2 separate regions of the Homo sapiens genome follow, and region 2 is linked to region 1. The links come from fine-mapping of genetic effects on gene expression. A gene starts in region 1. The other region holds a variant in brackets. All regions are shown on one strand. Distances are from middle to middle. Region 1 holds the start of KCTD6 (potassium channel tetramerization domain containing 6). Region 2 overlaps FAM3D-AS1 (FAM3D antisense RNA 1).

The links. PIP is the estimated chance that this variant, and not a neighbour inherited with it, causes the effect.
Region 2: its variant is fine-mapped to the expression of KCTD6 in cerebellum (GTEx, PIP above 0.99).

The regions. Positions count from the first base shown.
Region 1 is chr3:58,490,458-58,493,362 of GRCh38, reverse strand. It overlaps KCTD6 (potassium channel tetramerization domain containing 6), which reads right to left and starts at 1,267. Exons shown (of 3, transcript NM_001128214.2): 1 at 1,194-1,267. RefSeq lists a silencer at 967-1,616.
Region 2 is chr3:58,607,224-58,610,128 of GRCh38, reverse strand. FAM3D-AS1 (FAM3D antisense RNA 1) reads right to left here. Exons shown (of 4, transcript NR_134853.1): 2 at 2,184-2,447. It also overlaps a transcript of FAM107A not described here. Among named protein-coding and RNA genes, the nearest start is that of FAM3D-AS1, 1.6 kb to the right of the region's middle. The variant A/G (reference allele first, on the strand shown) is at 1,201.

The DNA.
Region 1 (2,905 bases):
AATATGATTTATGAAAATTCAAATCACAAAACTTTGGAATGGCATCCATGGCTATCCTGACCACTCCATCGTTCATATCTAAGGCATAGCACAAAATCAAGTATCAGTATGGACTGATGGTTTCGGCCAAAGAGAAAATACTCTCAACCTACCAACCCTGCTGACAAACACATTTTCCTTTTCCTAGCTACATATTCGTTCATTTGAAAACATCTCAATCTTGGGCTCAGGACTGTGCTACATGCTGTCCCCAAGCTTCTCTCCTATCCCAGGATGATTCAAGTAATAGGGCATTTGTGACAGCGAAAAAAAGAACATGCCAGGGGGATATAGAAGAGATACTTAGGCTACCCCAAATATTCTTAGCCGAGCCGGGTCATCCCAGGTCACTTTGCCACCCAAACCTCTTCTATCACAAAGTCCTAAAATTGGATCCATCAACTTGTTCTAGAACTGGTATACTTGAACAGAAACATGGTAACTTCGGCAGAATATCCAAACAGGATCTCTGTCACGTTTCATTTCCCCGTCCCACCCCCAGACACAGCCTCCACCACTGTCAGCCCAGCAGGTGCTGCCAGGGCTCCCCATTACCATGGCCATTTATCACCTCTGACATCAAGCATTAAAAACGCCACCACACACACACAAATCTAGGCATAAAGAACTCAGCTGCGATCTGAGAGTCTCTTCAGGGCAGAAAATCCCAAAGGCAGGGTTTTGAGTCCTGCCTCAAGCTTTAAACTAGGGCAATTGGTGGCTAATAAGCGCCATCTCCCAAAAACAATCATTTTCGAGCACACCCCAAATATCTCCGTCCGGGCCGCCCTTCGCTGCTGCCCCGCCAGCGAAGCCCCCGCAACCCGACCCGGCCAGGGGTAGGGCGGGCGATGCTCCGGGCCCGGACGAGGGGCGCGCCGCGGGGCTCCGAACCCGGGCCCGCAGAAACCGCGCATCCCCGCCGGGCGGGCCCCGGAACCCCCGCCCAGGCCCCGCCGCGGGCACCTCCGCTGCTGGCTCGTGCCAGCCCGGGACGCGCGGTCCCCTCAACGCGGCCCCGCCGCCGCCCCGTTCCAGGAGCCCCCGCCCAGATCCTCCTCAGCCCCGCTCCCCTGGCCGCTCGGCGCAGACGTCTCCTGAAACCCGGCCCTCCCAAACCCCGGCCCCGCAAGCCCCGCGCCAGCCCCACTCACTGCGCGGCGGCGGCGGCTGCTGCGGCCGGGCCGGGAGATGCCCGCGGCCGGAGAGCGCGAGCGCGGGGACAAGCGAGCCCGCGCCCGGCGACGGCGGCGGCGGCGGCGGCAGAGGGGACGACTGAGCCCGCGCCCGGAGTTGCGGCTCCAGCTGCCCGGCGCGGGCGGCGCCTTCCCAGCAGAGCCGCGGCGCCACGAGCGCGGGCGCCCCCTAACGGCAGCGCGGGCTGGAAGCCAGAGAGCGGGCGGCCTGAGGAACTCAGCCAGCGCAGTCGGAGCCGCGCGGTCAAGACCACACGACCGCAGCCCCGAAGCCCCGCCCCGAAGCCCCAGTCCCGCCCCTTAGGCTCCGCTCCGAAGCCCCGAAACCCCGCCCCTACGTCCCGCCTCCGCCCGCAGCCTGGGGTCCGCCCAACCCCAGGCCCACTGCGTCCTCAGGGGTGGTGCCTCCACAGCTGTTTCTCCTTAGTCATTTCACGAACTTGTATGGGCCCCCCACTATATCTCAGGCCTGGGGGTTTAGGAGATACAGCGGCCACCAAGACGGAGGCGGGTCCTAATCAAAGGAGAAGACAGACAAGACTCAAGGAAACAGCTAATAGACAAAATAATGACAAGTTATGGCCGTAAGTGTTGGGAGGGACATGATTAGAGGACTTAGATGGAGAAGAAGGGAAGGGAGCCCCTGCTCCAAACGCAGTGGCCGAGGAAGACCTGGACCCCGACCTGCGGCCAGAGCTCCTCCTGCCTGCCCTGCATTGGGGAGACAACCCTGCGATGAGGCCTGTGAAGAAGCCCCCGGGGCCACCGGGGCAAGACGGTCTGGTCCGGCCTGACGGGCAAGACAGCAAAGGGCTGCTGGGCCCAGAAGCTCAGCAACACGGGCAGCCAGGTGGAGAGAAGGGCAGAGCTACCTTCAGCAGACAAAACGACCCATGCAAAGGCTCTGGGGCCTGGAGGAGCTCGACCCTAGATGAGACTGGCGCTGGTATTGTCCCCACTTCACCAGGAAGGAAGCCAAGGCTGCAGAGGATGGGCAGCACCTAACGCCTCAGGGCTAATTGGTCTCCATCCGTCCACTCGTTCCAAGTCCATTCACTTCCTGCTAGCCAGGCCACTGTCCCCTTCCGGTGGGACCAGTTACCTGATGCTGGGTTTAACCTTCTCCACCAGAATAACCACTGGCCTTAGAAACTCACTTGGGTTTCACGTCTGCATGTGTGTGAGCTAGCTCTGGGGTTGAAATTGTATCAGCATGATCATCACAGTTATATCTGATACTTGATTTGTCTCCAAAAGCTCAAATTGATAGGTTAAATAAATGACATATGCTTCATCAACATAACTGAGTGCTACATTATCAAATTCACAAAGACTAGGTGAGAATACAGGGAAATGTGTGTGAAAATGATCAATACACAAACTAGTACACATGATATCCTGATTTTATTTTTAAAAACATAAATATATACAGACAAAAATTTTGAAGGAAATACATCAAACCATTGACCATCGTGTTCAAGATAACAGTATGGGAATGTTAATGGCATTACTTCATAACGTTCTTCTGAATTTTCATGAATATTGAATTTATAATCAGAACACATAAATATTGAATTTATAATCAGAAAAATACAATGAGTTTTGGTTTGGTTTTTCTTTTTTTTTTTTTTTGCCCCCCACTCCTCCCCACCCCACTGGGTTTTGTTGTT
Region 2 (2,905 bases), 120 kb before region 1:
ATTGGTGCTGTTGTCATTTCTATCCTGCACGTAATTCAGCTGCTGTCTCCTCAGGTCCATTACAAATCAGTCTCCAGAAGGGAATGGCCTCACACGGCCTATCTGCAACTAGTAATGATCATGATGTGCTGGCCATCTTGTCAGTAATGTGCACTTCCTGCACACTGTATGCCAAGTGCCATTCTAAGCACTTTACATATTAACCAGCCAAGAAATAACCCCAGAAGAGAACAGCTGCCTCCTGCCCCGACCCTCTAGGGAGGAGACAGGGGTCAAGAAGCCATGCCTAGGCCAACCCATGTGTACAAGACCTGCTGTAGGAAGAGGTCACAGATGGCCTCATGGGGGGATTCTGGGCCCCGACTTTGGTCCCATATCCATGTGAGGAACCCAAAAAATGACTTTCCCTCCTCCACGACCCCCTAGGTGGCTCTGAGGACTCAGCGAAGTCATTGCCAGAGGTCTTGAAAAACAAAAAGCGGCTGTAGGAGATGTTGGGGGAAACCTTCCTCCATGCCACCCTAGGGCCTAGGGCAGTGCTCACAGTGTTTGTTGACTGACTAATATTTGTTGACTGTAAGTGATGGTTCCATTTTTAGAGCATAGCAGCTCAGGCACTAAGCTGTACCAGCCATTTTTTCATATGTGTATAAGAAGAAGACTAGAAAAATAAATACCAAACATTAATGCTAATTATCTTAATTGAGGAAGGGGCAATGGGGTGAGGAGGGGAGATATCATGGTCACTTTTGTATTTTTTTCCACTTTCTACATTGTCTACAGTGAGCATTGCCTACATTGTCTACAATTAATTTTATAGTCAGTAGAAAACAAACATTTCTGTAAATTTATGATTTACCTCATTTTACAGAAAAAGAAATGAAGGCCCAGACACGTTACGCCATTTGCCCAAGACCACACAGCCAGAAGAGAGTGGCTGGGATGGACCTATACCTGCCATCTCTTCACCTGCATCTGCTGGGAACCCCATCCCTCAGCACTGGGGCCATTTCCAGCTCCTGCATCATGGGGCCTCCTTGTCCCCTTTCCCATGACCAGGCCCTGAAAATGCTCCCACCCCAATCCTGCCAGCTCCCCCAACTCCTGAGAAAGTCCCCTCTGAGAGCCAAGAGTCCCTGCAGATCTCAGGAAGGTGTCCAGGGGAAAGAGATGCATGCAAAGCCCCATTCCAGCTCTGCC[A/G]ACTCACTGCTTATTCATTAATAAAAGAATGCCCAGGCTATTTTGGGCACCTGTAATTTTCTACTTGAATAACCAGGAAAGTGGCTGCCTGCCCGCTCCTCTGCCCTGCTTATGGCACCAGAACAGGGGAAACGCGATCTTGCCTGGCGTAATGGGATCTGGGCGAGGTCTCACTGCTGATTTCCTTGCCTTTGCCTCATTCCAGAAAGCCCAGGTGTCCCCCATGCCACCTCCAAGGGGGTCTGGGGAAGGAGAATCCAGGCCAAGTTTGGATGTTGTGGACTAGGTGGTTTCTTCCAGCTCCAGAAGGCAAATCCCAGCTCTGCCACTTGCCAGCTGTGGGACTTTGGCCCCAGCTTCTCTATCTGTAAAATGGGGATAACTATACCACCTTGCAGGTTTGGTCCAGGGGAGCTGCCTGGCTCTTAGGGTAATTGTTGCTGTTGCTGTTATTGTTATTCCATAGATAAGGAAGGAGTTGTTCTGGGAAAAGATCTGGCCTAGGAGGCTTAGGATCTCTCATTTGGCTCTACTGCTGACTAGCTATGTGACCTTAGACAAGCCCATTTCCTTCTTATTTTAAGCAAAATTGTTCTTTCTGTTTATCAAGGTAATTCATGATCATTATTGAAAATTTAGAAAAATGAATGACGAAAATTAAAAATCAGGGTAACTCTTAACTACTATTTATTGAGCACCTACTCTGTGCCAGGCCCCATGTTAGGTGCTTTCTATTTATTATCTCTAATTCTCCCAAGTCTGCACCCATTTGTAGATGAGAAAACTGGAGCTCAGTGTGGTGATGTGACTCATGCAAGGTCACACAACTGGTAAGTAGAGCAGAAATCACACCCAAGTCTTTCATTCTTCAAAGTCTGTTGGTTTGGTTTTCTATTGCTGCGTAACAAGTGACCACAAAATCAGTGGCTGAAAACCACACACATATCACAGTTTCCCTTGGCAGGAGTCTGGGCACCGCTTACCTGGTCCTCTTCTCAGACTCTCACAAGCTGCAGTCAAGGCATGAGTTGAACTGTGTTCTCATTCAGAGGCTCGACTGAGAAAGAGTTCACTTCCGTGCTCATTCAGGCTGTTGGCAGAATTTATTTCCTTGCAGTTGTAGAACAGAAGGCCCCAGAGGTTTGCTGCTTGCTTGTTGGAGGCTGCCCTCAGGTCCTAAGAGGCCACCCAGTTTCTTGAGGCTGCCCGCAGCTCCTTGCCATGGGGGCACCTTACCTAGCTGCTAACTTCATTGAGCCAGCAAGGAGAATCTCTTGTTAGTGTATGCTAGCAGGACAGAGTCACATGTACATGCACACGTATACACACATACATGCACACGTATACACACATACATGCACATATACAAATCCATCTAGCATGATCATGGGAGTGACACACCCTCACCTTTGCCATATTCTATTGTTAAAATAGCTCCCACCCACCCTCTACTCTGGAGAGGTAGAGGACCACACCAAAGGGTCAGCACAGGGGTGAGAGTCATGGAGGCCACCTAGGGGTCTGTCTCCCACACCCACACTCTTCCCACCACAGCCAGCTCCCCTTTCCTCAACAACATCCTCACCCTCACCCTCCAGGAGAAAACTCCACTCTAGGTTGGCAACTGCAAAGTTAGCTCCATGTTACAAACATCGTGGCATATCCTGGACCAAGGAAATGGAGCCTCATGGAACACTGGCTCAAG